Regions from separate parts of the Homo sapiens genome. Here region 2 is linked to region 1. Evidence: fine-mapped expression QTL. Tissue or cell type: whole blood. Region 1 holds a variant in brackets; the other region holds the start of a gene. All regions are shown on one strand. Distances are from middle to middle.

Region 1 (8,105 bases):
TTCCAGGGTACCTATTTGAAAACAAGGGAGTTTTCAGTTATATTTGAGACATAGTGATATTATTGTTTTTTGCTTGAAGCCAAGATGTAGGTAGCGATTGCTTCCACTTTATTTTTACTGTACTTTTATATAGTAATTTGGACAGGTGTCTTCATAAAGGAGATCTTTGACAAGGGAAAATAGACCCAGACACCCATTAAGACGTGTTTTCTCCCATTTTCTCCTTCCTTGCAATATAGGTGGGTTTGATAGAATAGTATTAGGAAATACCAAAGAATCTACCAAATGGGTAAATGCTACTTAAGTGTCTGTACAGGTCATTTAGATGAGAGGATTTGAGACTATGCTTGTTATAATTTGAGAATTATACATGGGTCAGGAATGACATGAGGGCTGAGGTTGAAGCAATTTGAAAAGGAGAGATAATCATGAAACTCTACTTGGATATTAATAATTTTTCCCTTGAATCACACACAGTGGCCTGCGAGGCCTCATTTTGGCTCATCAGTTTTTATATGGGCTGAAGGCATTTGTTTGGAAGATGTAAATACCCTTGTGTTTTTAATAGGGAAAGGTTGGATCAAGTTTGCTCTTAATTCTGATCAACTGACAGTCTTTGACTCAACATGAAGCACACTGAGATAAAGCGGATCCTGGTTTGCTGATACAGATCTCTCAGAAGAGGAGCTTGAGAAGCGGGCCTTGCTGGGATTTCCTCTAATCGCTGCATTGGATTGATTGATAGGATTCAGGTTTTGTTATGAACTTGGGAGAGAAGTGGGAAGACATCCAATAACACCCAACATTTCATTTAATATTTGAAAGAAAACCATTTCTTTTTCTTTTTTCTTTTTTTTTTTTTTATACTTTTAAGTTCTAGGATACATGTGCAGCCTTGTTACATAGGTATACATGTGCCATGTTGGTTTGCTGCACCCATCAACCCATCATTTACGTTAGGTATTTCTCCTAATGCTATCCCTCCCCCTGTCCCCCACCCCATGACAGGCCCCCGTGTGTGATGTTCCCCACCCTGTTTCCGTGTGTTCTCATTGTTCAATTCCCACCTGTGAGTGAGAACATGCGGTGTTTGGTTGAAAGAAAACCATCCCTACATTGATGACATACCAGTTTTCTCCTGAACCTGGACATTAATTGTTGGCATGTTGGGGAAGTCTGCTCCTGTGATGTATCTCGTAGGAGCAGTCAGCAGCCAGACCTAACAGTTTGATGCAATCAAGTTCAGGGCCAGTTGGAACATCTTGAAAAATCTAAGTAAAGGTATCTAAGGTGGGTAGTAAATCTCTAAGGAATTTCCTTTGTATTAGTGATTTGCTGTTTTTTAAAATAAATCTCTTTGACACCAGCTTCAGATAATTTTTTTTTTTTTTTTTTTTTTTTTTTTGAGACGGAGTTTCGCTCTTGTTGCCCAGGCTGGAGTGCAGTGGCGCGATCTCGACTCACCGCAACCTCCGGCTCCTGGGTTCAAGTGATTCTCCTGCCTCAGCCTCCTGAGTAGCTGGGATTACAGGCATGCACCACCATGCCCGGCTAATTTTGTATTTTTTTTAGTAGAGACGAGGTTTCTCCATGTTGGTCAGGCTGGTCTTGAACTCCCAACCTCGGGTGATCTGCCCGCCTCAGCCTCCCAAAGTGCTGGGATTACAGGCATGAGCCACTGCGCCCAGCCCAGATAATTTTTTTTTTTTAAAGAAATTGCTGTGTGGCCTTACTTGCTTGTCAGTAAAAGCAGGCACCGGCCCCCAATCATTCACTCAGTTATGACAGACTTCCCTCCTACCACATGCTTTCAGATGCTTTACCCAGAAAATAGGTCTGAGGGTGGTGACTGTAGACCCCCGGGAGAGGTTTCCGTGATGGTGGTCACACTGAGTTTTCTTGAATAGAAGGGATTATGCAAATATTTGTGTTTTAAATCTCCCTAGATTTTTGCTGTCTAGTGATTTACATGGCTTTAAGAATTTTTGTCCTGTTTAAAGGTTCCTTTGTGAGGATGTGCATATGATCTTGTGTGATCTCATTTTCCCTAAGCCTAGGCTTGAGGACAGGTGGAATCTTCCACTGATCTTGCCTGCTTTCTTAAGATTTTACCACTGATTTCTCAGGATATTTTAAAACATTTCATATTTGAAAGCATGAAAATAAAATGTTTTATTTCTTTAAGTTATAATTCATGAAGATGGAATTTATCTGATAGGTCTTACTTGCTTTAAATCTTTGCCTTTGGAAAAAAAATTCCAACTTTTAAACAAATTCCTAATAGTAGTTGCCCTTTAAATGACAAGAATCATAGTTGGGGGTTGGGGTGAGAGAAAATCTTTCATCTCTTTTAAAGGTATTTAATCTTTTTTAAAAGTTTCCTTACTTTTTAATTATCTTCAAATATCTGCCATAAAGTATGTGTTTACTTGCTCTTTATAAACAAGAGCAGCACTTCATTCCTTTCGGTAAATGTCAGAATGTTGGGTTTTGTTTTATTTCTCCTCCTCCTCCCCGCCCTCCTCTTCTTCCTCCTCCTCTTCTCCTTTCTTGTTCTTCTTTCTTCTTCTTCTTTTTTTTTTGTGGGGAATAAAACTATAGTTTGTTTCAGAGGTGGCCAAGCATAGCTCAGCTGAGAGATGGAGGGACAGCTGCTGCCTGGGCACCTTGGCTTAAAGTCACCCTGAAGGGACTGTGGGTTTTTAGAGATCTTTTCATCTTGTCAGTCTTCCAGCCTGGCCACAAGCTTGCCTTAGCAGTCTGCAGCCCGTGTGCCATCTTTTGACAATGTCATTGTCATGGGATGGATGCTCCCTGTGATGTGGCAGATAATGCATTCCAGTGTGCTACTTGCAGAAAGTGGTAACATCTCTGTGTACTTTTTATTCAGAACCTAAGTTGCTAGTTAGTTGAACACCACAGATGTATGAGCTGTCTTCGGCCTAAGAGTGGGCATGAAAATTGTAGCAAACCCATAGAGGCTTTTAATTTTTTTCTAAAAAGACCTCACAGCAGTATTATTGATTTGGTTTTAAATAGCTATTTTATGAAGTTTCAGGATAATTTTTTTTTTACCTCACCTTTTAGCCTTTATTTTGATTTTTTAAAGGGGGGTGGTTTTCCTTTATCAATCCCTAACCATTTTATCTTAAGAACTCTTTCTGAAGTCATTCTTTATTTCAGCCAGAAAACTGATTAGTGTTCATTGATAGAAGATGATAGGCTGTACAGTTAACCATGAAAAATATTTTTCTCCTTGACACCTTAAAGTTGTTGTCAAAAGTATTACCGCATTCAGTTAAAGAGAGTGGGTAGAATTTTATTGTCTGAGCTTATAGTATACAAGCACCAAAGCTCGATGAATTCAGGTCTTTTCCAGGAAGTTTAACTTGCATTTTTTTCTCATAAGATATTCACATTTCTTTTCCACTCCTAATTTTGTGGCATAAAATAAAACATAACTTTTGTTCTGGGCACAGTTTCTTATTGCTGAAGGACTTAGGAAAGAGCATGTCAGGAGTAGGAATGGTCCAGCTAGTGAAACTGAAAAGAAAAACCCTGGAGCACTATTTGTTCCTCTTCAGCGTCTGTCTGTGGGCCTTCAGCTGCTCTTGGGGAAGGGCCATGCTTACTCCTGAAGAATTGCGGCAACAGTAGAAGGGGCTTCTGTAAGTAATGTACCTCTCAGTGCAAGCTAATACATTCCTAAGGGCTTATTTGGCTTCACTTCCTAATTTACAGTGATCTTGACCGGCTTTCTGCCTTGAGACCCTGAGTGTCATGCCGTGGTGGGGAAGGTTGGCACCTCAGGCACGTATGAGATGGTGTGGAGCTCCTTAGATGAAAGGTGCTCGGTGTGGGAAATACAGTAATGTGAGAAACCTTCCATCCAGCTGTCTGTCCGTCCATGCTCCATGCAAGCAAGTTCTCGGCCTCTTGAGCCTGTGTCTCCCACACCGAAAGTTATATGTACTGTCCTGATGCAGGAGAAGAACCTAAGTTTTCTGGGGAGAAAAAATGGGCTTTTAAGCAAGGTGAAAAACAAAAAACACTTTCTTTCCAGTTATACCAAAAGTGATGATATAACTAAACCAAACTCCCTGGAAAACTAGATACCATCAAACTTGAATGACAGGGT[A/G]GATAGGAATGAGCCCAGCCCAGACTGTAGGTGAAGGAACATGTTTTCCAGCAGCTGCAATTTAGCATGCATTAGGTTGTGAATTCTGCACTTTGGTTTCTAGGCAACTTGCACACATTTTAAATCTGAATATAAACACATACACACCCCCAAAACAGAATGAAACAATAAAAAGCCTAATGATATAAACCATGTTTGCCACAAGTCTCAGTAACTATAGCAAACAAATCCAGGCCACTACCTGGCTAAGTAGAGATGTTGGTGGTTAGACCTAGGAAATAAAGACAAAGCAGCTATAAATAACTTCTTTTGTTGCACAGTGATAATGTCTCTACAACGCAAGCACATCAGGTGTGCTCTGCCTCCAAGGTGCCCTGCAAGAGAAGGCATCTCCTCAAGGGAACGAGTCTTGTTAAGGGAGATTTCATTTCTTTTCCTGTTCTTTTAATTAGTCTTACATTAAGATTCTTAGAAGTTGTACATCTTCTTATTGCTAGCAGCAAGCTCGGTAAGTCCAGGTTACTTCTAGGCGGACAGGTCTGACCCAAAGGGTGCTCATCAGTGCCTCCGTTGCCGCCAGTAGGGAGGTGATAGGAGCAGTTCTGGGGTGTGGCTTAATATCTGTACTAGAAATTGGGACTTACGGATAACCTCGATGAGTTCACAGATGAGGCGGGCTTAACATAGGATTGCCAGTAAATTTGGCAATCGAAATGATCCTGTTATACCAAGCACTGTTTAGATTCATGTGCCAAAGTGACCAGCTCTGGGTTTGAAAGAGGGTTATTGTGGGCCTTCTGGATGGACAGAAGTCAAATGGAACACATGTGAGCATGTGTTCAATGTCTTTAAATATTGAATAGCATAATGGTGGAGTTAACATGGGATCGGCCCATGCTGTTGGAGTCTGCATCTTGAGCAAGATGGAGCAATTGAGAATGGTCCAAAGAAAAGTAGTATTGTGGGCATGAGAAAAATAAGACCTATGGGAAAATTTTTTAAAAACTGAAATTGTTGGCCAGGTGCGGTGGCTCATGCCTGTATTCCCAGCACTTTGGGAGGCTGAGGCGGGCAGATCACTTGAGCCCAGCAATTTGAGACAAGCCTGGGCAACATGGTGAAATCCCATCTCTACAAAAAAAAATACTAAAAAATGATGCAAGTGTGATGGTGCACACCTGTAGTTCCAGCAACTTGGAAGGCTGAGGTGAGAGGATCACCGGAGCCCCAAGAGGTCCAGGCTATAGTAAGCTGTGTTCACACCACTGCACTCCAACCTGGGTGACAGAGTGAGACCCTGTCTCAAAAACAAAAAATAAAACTGGACCATAGTTTTAAGGAATTCCTATCCTATAATTAAATACATTTAACATAAGTAATATTTCTCTCAAAAGCTTTAAGCAGGCTGTATAAACAGAAACAACTTAGGAGCTTGCTAATTTGTTTATCCCTGCTATAGACATGTTTCTTCATTCATTCATTCATTCATTCATTCATTCACCTTTCATGTTAATTTTAAGAAATCTTTAAAATAGCCACTATCATTATTTATTGTCAAGAACAATGATTTGTGATGGCAGACTAAGATTGCTGACTTTTTATTTAGAGTTTGTAAAAACAGGTTTCAGGATGTTAAATTTTTATAGTTATTGCATGATTGATGTGTTTCCTTTTCCCACAGAACTAAAGCATGTTAAAGATGCTATTTGAATTTAATTCTGGGAACATAATAAAAATAGCATTGGGGCATTGAGGAGCTCAGAGGCACAGGCCTCATCAGCCCTGCTTTAATACCTGAGCAGCAAGAGGTTACAGGTGGCTTCTCCTCCCTCCCAGGGGACCTCAGTAGGTAGAGGAGAGAGGAGGCACACAGTCAGGGGACCCTGAGGCCAGAGCCACACCAGGGGATTCTGCTGCCCCAGTCCCTTCCCACAGGCTTGTTTGTCCATTGACAGGAACAGTTGCACGTACAAAATCAACTTTGCTTTCCCATCCTCTGTAAAATGTAGTGCCCAGCCTCTTTATTATGCATTTTATTACTCACATTTAGAATTATATTGCTATCAGGAATGGTTTCTTGAGAACTGGAGCGGAAGAAAGGCTGTGTCCCACGATATGTGATCCTGCTAATAAAGTGGATGATCAGACACAAAGCCAAGTTCATCTTCCCACCTTGGGGCCACCACAGAGCCACGTGGTAACCCCCTTTTTCTGAAGGAACGGCATTGAGGCCCAGGCCATGTGCATTTCCCCCTGGGCTGCCTCCTCTGACCCCAGGATTCCAGCTCTTCCTCAGAAGTTGTCTCCATCTCTGCGATGAAAGAGGAGAGCAGGGACCTTTCTCCCTCCCCTCCTCTATGTCTTTCTGACCAGGTGCCCCCAGGACGCCTATTGCTGATGGGCATAGGCATTCCCAGTTCCCTCCTGGCCCAAGCTCCTGGAGGTGGGACCACACATGACAGAGCGACACCCAGCTTGTCCTCTCTTTTGCAAAGTGCAGGATGAGAATTTTGGGTTATCCTGGCTCCTCCCATGTTTTTTGCAGCTCCAGTGACAGCAATGCCAAATGATACCCAAAGATAAAAATATTGATCCAAGTGCAGATGAGCTGAAAACATTCCTTTTCTGATAGAAAACACGGTAAACAGTCTCCCTTCCTCAAAGATTGTACCTGGAAAGCCATGGCTGGTTAATTTTTTCCCTTTAGAATACATAACATTGTGAACTTCAGAAAATACCATAATCAGGGAGTTCCATGACAGAGTTAAGTCTCCACACTCCAAAAAAAAAAAAAGCAAGTAATGGCTGTTGATCGTGTGGATATGTGAATTGCAATAAATAACAGGCTCTCACGTTTTACCAGTTCTTTTTACTACTTAGACATTTTGTCAGGCTTCTCAAACCAAAAGGCTCTGTGCCATTCAGGAACTTAGCCAGTTTTCATGTATGTGAGTGAAACATTTGGGGCCAAAGAAAGACTCCTTTGTAGCAAGAGTGACTTGCGCTTTAATCAGTGTAGGAAATGGCCTTATGAGAAGATGGATTTGTGCTAGAAAAATTGAGAATAAGGAAACTATTCAGAAATAAGATTTAAAAAAAAAAAATCATCCTTGTGGTAATTTGAAATTGTGATATTGCCAGATTGAGATTGTATACTGTGTACTCAGAGTCCTTGGGGGTGTGTGTGTGTGTGTGTGTGTGTGTGTGTGTGTGGAGAGGGAGAGACACTAAAAAAGTACAATAAGCCAGTTTGTGATCTCACCATATGTGTTGAATTGAACACAACTCTTCTGCACTTAATGAAGACTTCAGCCTTTAGGGGTAAATAAAACATCACTAAACAGGGATGGCTTGAATATTTCTTACCGGCTGTAATAATTAAAGCCATGAAAAAGGTGGTGGGGTTATGTTACTCATTAACTGGAATCGCTCTTAGATTTGATCAAGACGCGGTGGCCCCTGGCGCTTTGTTTCATGTTTGTCCTTTGTTTCATTGACACGCTTTGCCTCGGCCTCCGTGGCGCTATAAAAGCAGCAGAGCAGTTAAAGAACCGGACCCAGAAGGCCCGTAGACCTCCTATCTAGCCGCCTTTTCTCCCCTCCCCCCAAACCCAACAAACTCTTCAACCTTCAGAACTGAGCCTGAAATCATCTATAAAGCAGCACACTTAGGGATCTGGGAGGGAACGGGAAGAAACCTTCCTCTTTTAAAAGGAAACTGATGAATTCAAGTGTAGCCAAGAGCTTTTAAAGGATGTCATTGGCCAGGCGCGGTGGCTCATGCCTGTAATCCCAGCACTTTGGGAGGCCGAGGCGGGCGGATCACGAGGTCAGGAGATCAAGACCATCCTGGCTAACAGGGTGAAACCCCATCTCCACTAAAAATGCAAAAAATTAGCTGGGCGTGGTGGCAGACACCTGTAGTCCCAGCTACTCGGGAGGCTGAGGCAGGAGAGTGGCATGAACC
Region 2 (8,105 bases), 470 kb after region 1:
CCAGAATAATTCCATGTAAAAAGCCCCCACCCGCGAGGAAACATTAATCTACTTTGCAAACATGCGTTCCAGTCTGTGCCTTACTATTTTTTTTTCCACTCCTTCCACCCCCACCCCGCGTTTTTTGTACCTTGAGACAAATGTTTTTTTCCCTCAGAGTTGAAAGCTGTCCAAAAACAGGACCACACACGCCGCCGCCTCCGCAGCCCCGCGCTGCGCCCGCCCCCGGCCCTCCCCAGCGCGGCGGCCGCGGCCGCCGGGGGCGCGCACACTCCAGCCAGCCGGAGGGGTGGCCTCTGGCTCTCCCCGACTCCTTTTTCTTTGGACGCGGTGGGTGGGGGTGGGGGAGAGAAGAAAGCCGGGCCGCGGAGCGGGGCCGGGAGAGGCCAGCCCCGGGGCGCCTCTCGGGGCGCGGCCCAGGCGGACAGCGGCAGCGGCGGCGGGCCCGGGGCCCCCGGCGCGCAGAGTGGTCCGTCCCGGAGGGGCCCCGCGCCCCCGTCCCGCCCCCGCCGCTCTCTCCCACCACACCTCGGCCGGCGCAGCGCCCCGAGTAGATTACAGCGCGGCCTTTGTCGGGCGGGCCTGGCTCCCGGCCAGGCGCCCAAACAATAAACAATCCCCCGGGTGCGGGCAGGGGGTTTCGCCGGCCGCAGCCAGGCTCTAGGTGTGCGCTGGCGAATATCTCTATCAACCGCGAGGAGGGACCGGGCCGGGGGCGCGGGCGCCGCGGCGGGCGCTCTTACCTTCCACCCACAGCTCCTCCACGTTGGTCTCGAGGTTCGCTGCTTTTAATCCCACCGCGAAGGCCCCAAATATGAGGAGGCCCACAACCAAGAACTTGCCGCAGTTTTTTTGAATGTAACAACCCAGTTTAAATAAGAGTCTCTGAAACTTCGCTCTCAGCCACAGCGGCGCTTTCCGGCCAGTAGCCTTCCCCTGGGGACGAAGCAGAAGGGAGGAGTGAGCGCCGGGGAGTCGCGGCCCGCGCGCCCACGCCCGCTTGCGCGCACCCGCCCGGTGAGCCCCCAACAGCCGTGGGGGCGCGGGTGGCCGCGGCACACGGACTCGCCCTCGAGACTGCAGCCCCGGCGGATCTGAGCGTCATGGGGGGCTCGGTCATAAAGCCGGGCCGCAGCGTGGGAGCTGCACCTCGGGGACATCAGGGCGCCCCCACCCGCGGGATCCCTGAGCGACTTGGGGCACTGGGGCTGCAATACAGAAGAGGAAGCCGAGGTAGAGAGGAGAGAAACCACTCGACACAGACAATATTCACCCCAGAGCTGAGAAGGGAGGGGCTGCGTAATCCCAGCGATGGAGCCCAAGGTTCAGGAGCCAGCAAACCAGTCCTGCTCTGTCCATCACCCTCGGGGACGGGCGCTAGGGGCGAGCGCTCTTTGGAACAACATATTGCGGGTTCCCCCAACTGGACCCCCGCCGAGAATGGTAGTAAGTGGGGATCCACGTGGTGAGCGCGGCCGCCGGAGTTCACTCCCGACGCATTTCCATAGCGTGGGGAGAGGCTGTGTGAGCTGAATTAGGAAGTGGGGCAGCCAGCTGCAACTTACGACAATATTTGTGATCGGAAGAGGGCAGCCACATGGATCTTTCCCTCCTCTCCCTTCCTTTCTGGTTAAACGTAAAAAACAGCCGAGTGCAAAGGGAAGGGCTCAGGCCGGCGCAGGCTGCTCCCCGGCGCGGCATTTCCCCGGCGCTGGCCGCGGCCCCGGCGGGCCCCCGTCTGGGTGCTCGCCTTCCCTGGATTCCACACATTTCAGCGAGCCTCGTAAACACAATGAACCCGGCAGCTCCGCAGACTCGCACCGCGAATTTAAGGTGGCAATTTGTTTACAACTTTTCCTCCCCCGACCAGGCCCTAAGGAGAGGCGGCTCAAAACCTGGAAAACGGGGGGGATATCTTTTTCCGAGAATAATTTTTTAAGGGAGCAGAGATTTCATGCTCAACAAAACCAAAACTGGCTGCCAAAAAAGGAAACCACCTTTATTTCGGCTCCCTCCCCCCTTCCTCTCTCCGCCTCTCTCCACTCCGCCTCCCCCTCCAAGATGTTAAGAAATGTGGCAGCCGTACAGGAGTTTAGGCTGCAAATAGGGGCAGGGGCGCAGGAGGAAGAAGTTCAGGGCAGGGGGCACGGGGCAGGACAGTGCCGCGGCCGCCCTTGAGGTGGTCCGCCGTGGACGGCTTTCCAGTGCTCCGGAAAAGGCACACCAGGGAGGGCGTGTGTATACACACACACACACGCACACACACACACCTCCACCCCCTGCGGACCTCAGACAGCCCTTTCCTCCCAGGACCAGAGGGAGGGTTTGAATTTTTCAATCCCCATTTGTCTGCTGCTTTTCCTGGAGAGGTGTGAGTGAGTGTGTGTGTGTGTGTGAGAGAGAGAGGAAGAGAGTGTGTGTGTTTGTGTGTGGCGGGGGCGATCCCAAAGAGTTAGAGGAGGGAAGAGAAAGTGGGAGGAGAGAGTCTGAAATGCACCTTGGAAATCTGCTCCAGAGCGAAGGCGGCGTCGCAGTAGCTGGGCCGGTGCAGATAGTCCCGGTCCGGCGCGGCAGCACGGCGCAGCCCCCCCGTCCGTCTGCGCCTCCCGCCTCCAGCCGGCCGTCCCGGGGCACCGATACAGCCGCTGCCGCCGCCGCCGCGGTCCTGGGGCTCGGCGGCGTTACCAGCCGAGGCCATGTTGCCGCCGCCGCCGCCGCCGCCGCGGGGACGGAGGCTTCCCGGGCGGCCCGGCGCGCTGCTGCCGCTGCTGCGGGCTCCTGGCGCGCCTGGGCGCTCGGCTTGCGAGGACGCTGCTGGCCGCAGGCTGCTCGGGCTCGGGCTCCGGTTGACAGACCAGCCGCTGCTGCTGCTCACACGGCGGGCGCTGCTGCCGCTGCGGCCGCGGCCGCTGCCGGGGAGTCAGACCCTGCGCCTTCCATTGCCACATTGCGCGGGGGTCCCGAGGTCTCTGCGGCCGCCGCTGCCCACATCCAGTTCGCGGAAGAGCGAGAGCCGGCGCGCCGAGCGAGCCTGTCCTTCGGGCGCTTCCGCGGCACTCCTTGCGGTCCCCAACTCCCCCTACCCGCCCCCCGCCCCGCGCCGCGACCCCTTCACTGCAGAAAGAGCCAGCGAATCCCCGCTGCTCCCGCCGGCCGCGCTGGCTCTCTCGGCGCCTCCCGGGTCGCCCGAGCGGCCGCGGAGGGCAAGCGCAGAGCCGCCGCCGCCGCGGGGTCCGAGGGTGCCCGGCGGGTCTCAGCGCTGCCGGGCCCGGGCAGCCGCAGCTGCCGCTGCTCCCGCGGTGGCTGCTGCTGGCGGTGGCGGCTCCAGGAGCTGCTGCTCGGGCTGCTCGGGCTCTGGCTGCTGGGTTCGCGGTGGCTGCTCGGTCCCGGACTCTGCTTTCTTGTGCTCCTCGGCAACCCGCTGGACCATTCTGTCCCCGTGCAGCGCGCCTCTCTCGCTCCCGGGACCTGGGGACTCCGCTCTGTGTGTGTGCAGCGGGCAGCGGCCGCAGCAGCTCCTTGATTCAATAGATGAGATGGAAGAAGAAAAAAAAGAACTCTCTCCATTTGGAGAAAGAAGAGGAGGAGGGGAGGGGAGGGGGTGGAGGGGGAGAGAGCGAGCGAAAGAGAAAAAGGCTGGAGCTCCCGCCCCCGGGGCTGTCAGATGGCTTGGGTTTCTGCGACGCGATTGGCTCGCGGAGGGCAGAAATTACTCAGCAAACATGACTATTATTAGCTGCTTAGCAACAGCTCACCAAAGTAGAGAGACCACCCAGGTAGGCAACCCAGTGTGTGCATCCTCGGCTTCGGGGCAGCCTCTGAGAGCGCCAACCTTCTCGCATGCAATACTTCCATTAAGGAATGCTCCCCCTCCTTTCTCTCTTATTCCTTTTCTTTTCAACAGTGTCTTCTTTTTGTGGGATGCCTTTGCGCGCACACACGCGCGCGCACGCACACACACGAACATTTGCCTCGCGGTAGACACGGGGGGAAATGTAATATTTTTTTAAGCGCTTAAACAATTTCTGAAATTCCTCAAAGAAAAGCCTTTCAGAGGCACCTTGGCCTCAAGCTGCAGCAAATACTGGGAGGTCCGGCTCGCATTCCCAGGCCTGCACCAATAATGACAGCGTGCTGGATAGTGCGCCAGTGTGTGCCAGATTTTTTTTTCCTCTTCTCTTTTCTTTTATAACTAAAGGGAAGACTTAGGCTCTTGCAGGGAACAACGCCTCGCATTAAGATAAACAGAATGGAAAGTTAAAGAGGAAAGCAAGGACGTTGGGAAAAGCCATCTTTCTTAAAATCCGTCTGCCCCCCAGCCGCTTTCTCCCCCCAACTTAAAAAAAAAAAAAACACAGTCTTGGTTTGAAGGAGTCAGTGTTCTATAAACGTGGAATCCAGACACCGAAGCAGTCTTGTAGAGGCAGAGGCGTTTTTATTTGAATCTCGAATGTGACATAAGTAAAAGAGAAACAACAGAATCTTTTTTTACAACTTAGAGAAACGGAATTGTTTCCTTGAGAGAGTAAAGTTTTCCTGATTATTTTGGGTTCATTTGTACACCCCTTTTTATTAACCAGATGTTTATATAGTCAGTATTTTTTTTTACAAAACTCGGTATGCATGTTATATTTAATAATAGTATGACGTAGGAGATTATAAATGCCCCGATGCTGGATTCATTGAAAACAAACTGTGCGCGGATCGCGAGGATTCGTCCCGACACCGCGTCCAGTGTCACCAAGGCATCCCGGGGATTCGCTTCCCGCGGAGGGGGAAAACACGCGACCCTTTGAGGTGGATTCTGGAGCCAGACACGTCTACACAACTAGGCTTTTTATTTAAAAAAATTTTTGTTTTCGGAAAGTGGAATGTGTTTTTCTTACGTTTCCAAGTTATTACGTTCCTCCCTGCGGTAGGAACCCGACCCGCAAACCCTTGATTTGCTTCACTTTATTTTTTTTTTTAAACGGGGTTGAACTGCAGAGGGACTGGCAGTAGCGAGAAGTCTAGTGAAGTCGTGAAATGGGGCGGTGTGGCTTTAAGATGCGCACGGTGTATGTTCATTGAAAAAAAAAGAAGAAAGAAAGGAAAGGAAAGAAAGAAACCCAGATGGAGGGAAAGGGGGAGGAGCAGGGAGAAGGCGGAGCTCCGGTGGCCACGTGACCCCGCGCCAGGAGGCCCGGTGCGCGCGCGCGCCCGGCTCCCGGACTCCCCGCGCCCGCGCGGCCGGGGCAGAGTAGGTAGGGAGGCGGATGCGCCGGGCCGGCTCCGGGCCTCCAGCGCGGTCTCCCGAGAGCCCAGGCGAGGCGCGCGCCCAGCCGGCGCGGACGGACGTGCCGGACGCGCCGTAGTACATTCCTGAAGGCGGACCGGCCCCCTTACGCTGCCCAATGCCCGCGCCGCCTCCCCGCGACCGGCCAATGGTCGCGCTCACGAGTCCCTGCCCATTCAGCGGCCCCGCGCTGGCTGCCCGGGCGCGCTGGGGGCTGCGGCGGGGCGCGCCGGCCACCGGGGCGGTCCACGCGGCTCCCGCAGGGGGCCCGTCCGCCGGCTCTCCCCGCCCCCTTCCTTCCTCCCCGGCGGTTTCCCCTCCCCGCTTCCTTCCTTCGGCCTGCGCCTTCTCCTTCCTCCCTCGCCCCGCTCCCTCCCTCAATCTCCCCTCCCCCACCAGCCTGGCCACCTTCCCTCCAGCCTCTCCTCCTCCCCGGCTTCAGGGGGAGGCCCTTCCCCCGACCCCCTAACCCGCAAACCGTATGCGGTGCCGGGGTCAGGGCGGGATGTCCCGAGGAAGAGAGGGAGACGGGGTGGAGGTGTTTGGGGGCGTTCGCGGGATCCGGAGGGGGACCTGAGCACCGGGCCAGCGCGGAAATTCAAAACTCAGACCGCTTAAGGAGCACGTGATTTTGTGAGTGCCTCAGGGAAGGGCTGCGGAAACTCGGAAAGCAGGCGGGCAGCATGCGAGGAAAATGACACTGAGTTGATAAAGAGCTCAGACGGCTCCACACATTGCCAGTTTCATCTTTGAGTACGATCCTGATGTTTATTAGGTTTGATAAATAGCACAAAACAGGAAAAGAGGTTTACTATTCTAGCTTTTCTTACTGAATGGTTATGCCGACACTTCAAGTCGAACCATTGTGTGTTTGCTTCTGGAAATTGCTTTTTAAAAACTGGGGGAGGGGGGTAGTACCCCTAGTTTTGCATGTTAGCCTTTTTATATTTCAAGCTTGCTGGAGGGCAAGGAACCATATAGCCAAAGACACGTTGCTATGTTTGTCTTTTCAAACTTCTCCACCACGTTTTGGCCCAAAACTATTAGTGTTTCGTCTCAATCTTTTACTAGAGGGATTTCAGTATAGCTTGTTTGGAAGAAGGAATTCTGGAAGGAAATGGTAAGCTGTGTGCCCGTAATGGATCCGCCTCACTCTCCGCACGCGGCTGCATGTCCTCTGGTTCCGGCGGCTGCCACATGCACGTCATTTCAGTGGCAAAGCCTCTTCCACTCAGGCCCATATCCCTTAGTTTGACTTAATTCCTAAACGTTTTGAACATTGATCCCCGGAGCTTTCAGTGCCCTGAGCCCCCTCGCCCGCTGTTTGATGGGTTAACTTTTCAGCATCTCAGACAATGGTCCCGGCCTGTAAATTCTACCCGTGGGTTCCAGGACGCACTCCGGAGCCTCGGCTCTAACGAGCGCTATCTTAATCTCCCCACCCCCCACCCGCCGCTTCCCCTGTGGTCTGCTTTTTTCATACTTAGAGATGAATTACTTTGAGGATCTAATTGGCCTTGTTTCTGTAACGTTTTAAGAAAGGGAAGAGGAGCCAGTGTAAAAGCCTGCTCGACTTGGGTGGTCAGGGCTGAGGCTGCCCCCAATTTGCCTCATTGCTGATGCATGCGAGTGCGACATTCCCAGCGATAATGTTGTTCCTAATCAATCTGCCCTTATTTACATTTGTAAGCATTGTCGGCTTTAATATGCATGCCCTGTGCAGGGGACTGCTGTGCCACACCGGGTTTGTTAACTTCAACTAACCACAAGGATTCCACAGATCTGAGATGCAGACTGGGGCAGCCAGACCTGCTAAGGTGTCCTCCGGGAAGACAGTCCCTTTAAATGGCCCTTCTGCCTCTGGCACCCCTTGTGACAGTTACCAAATAAAAATAAGTGAGAACTTGGGGCCTTATCAGCCAGCAGGAGTTGCCAGCCTTTATGAAGCAACAGCTGAGTGTTCCATTTCCCCTTTCCAAGTAAAGTTCATCTCAATGCATAAATTGTCATTTTGGTCTCCCAGTCATGATCCAAGACTTCTCATTGGAGTGTGTAGTTTTCAAAGCAGATGCCTTAAGCTCTCCGGATTCCCTCACATCTCCTCCCTTCTCTGTTCCAATACTACAAATATCCATGGCCACACCACACACATTTCAAAAATGACATCAGATTATCCAAATGATGACAATGAAATAAAACATCTGCCCTTTGTGTTGGGATGTTCCAATGGTAAGCAATTGTGGAAGCCAGACTTGGTGGAGTTATGAAAAACCACAGTGAGATTTAACTTTTCACTGGTTTCTCAGATCAAACCAAATGAGTCTTTAAAATCCAATGTAATTTGGCAAGTTTTGCAGAGTATAAATGAATAAAGGGGTTAATGTATTCCAGTAATTTGACCCTGGGGCCATTTATAATTTTGTCTACTGAGTTTAATACTCTTCCAGAAATACAAGGAATTGCAAACATGATTTTAAGTCCTACAGTATTTTTGTTGAGAGGGTCGGATGGAGAGAGGAATTGGGGATTTGATGCAATATTCTTTTACTGCATGGGGAGCCCAGGATACAGGATGTGAGTGATGGTCAAGGCAGGGCTTCAGCAGTTCCAAGCAGGTACCTTGAATATGAGTTGAGTCGACTCAACTCAAGCCAATGTGCCACCATCCACCACATTTTCTTGGCTCCCTAAGAATGCCTTACTATTTTCTCATTGGCAGCTTTTGTATATTCTTAAAAGGTGATGGTAGAAAATGAGTCTAAAAGGTTTCAGGGAAGTCGGGGACGGGGTGGGGGGAGATTCAGCAGCTACAAAATTTAAAACTACTGGG

Evidence for each region. PIP is the estimated chance that this variant, and not a neighbour inherited with it, causes the effect.
Region 2: PTCH1 starts here. The variant in region 1 is fine-mapped to the expression of PTCH1 in whole blood (INTERVAL, PIP 0.94).

Annotation. Positions count from the first base shown.
Region 1 is chr9:95,034,131-95,042,235 of GRCh38, forward strand. The region is part of intron 13 of AOPEP (aminopeptidase O (putative)); the gene reads left to right. Among named protein-coding and RNA genes, the nearest start is that of MIR6081, 27 kb to the right of the region's middle. The variant A/G (reference allele first, on the strand shown) is at 4,139.
Region 2 is chr9:95,505,664-95,513,768 of GRCh38, forward strand. PTCH1 (patched 1) reads right to left here and starts at 3,603. Exons shown (of 24, transcript NM_000264.5): 1 at 2,498-3,603; 2 at 744-936. The coding sequence starts at 2,698. RefSeq lists silencers at 229-288, 449-508, 939-1,178, 1,709-1,758, 2,539-2,858 and 2 more and enhancers at 1,284-1,917, 3,503-4,052, 5,006-5,769, 5,770-6,531, 6,397-7,369.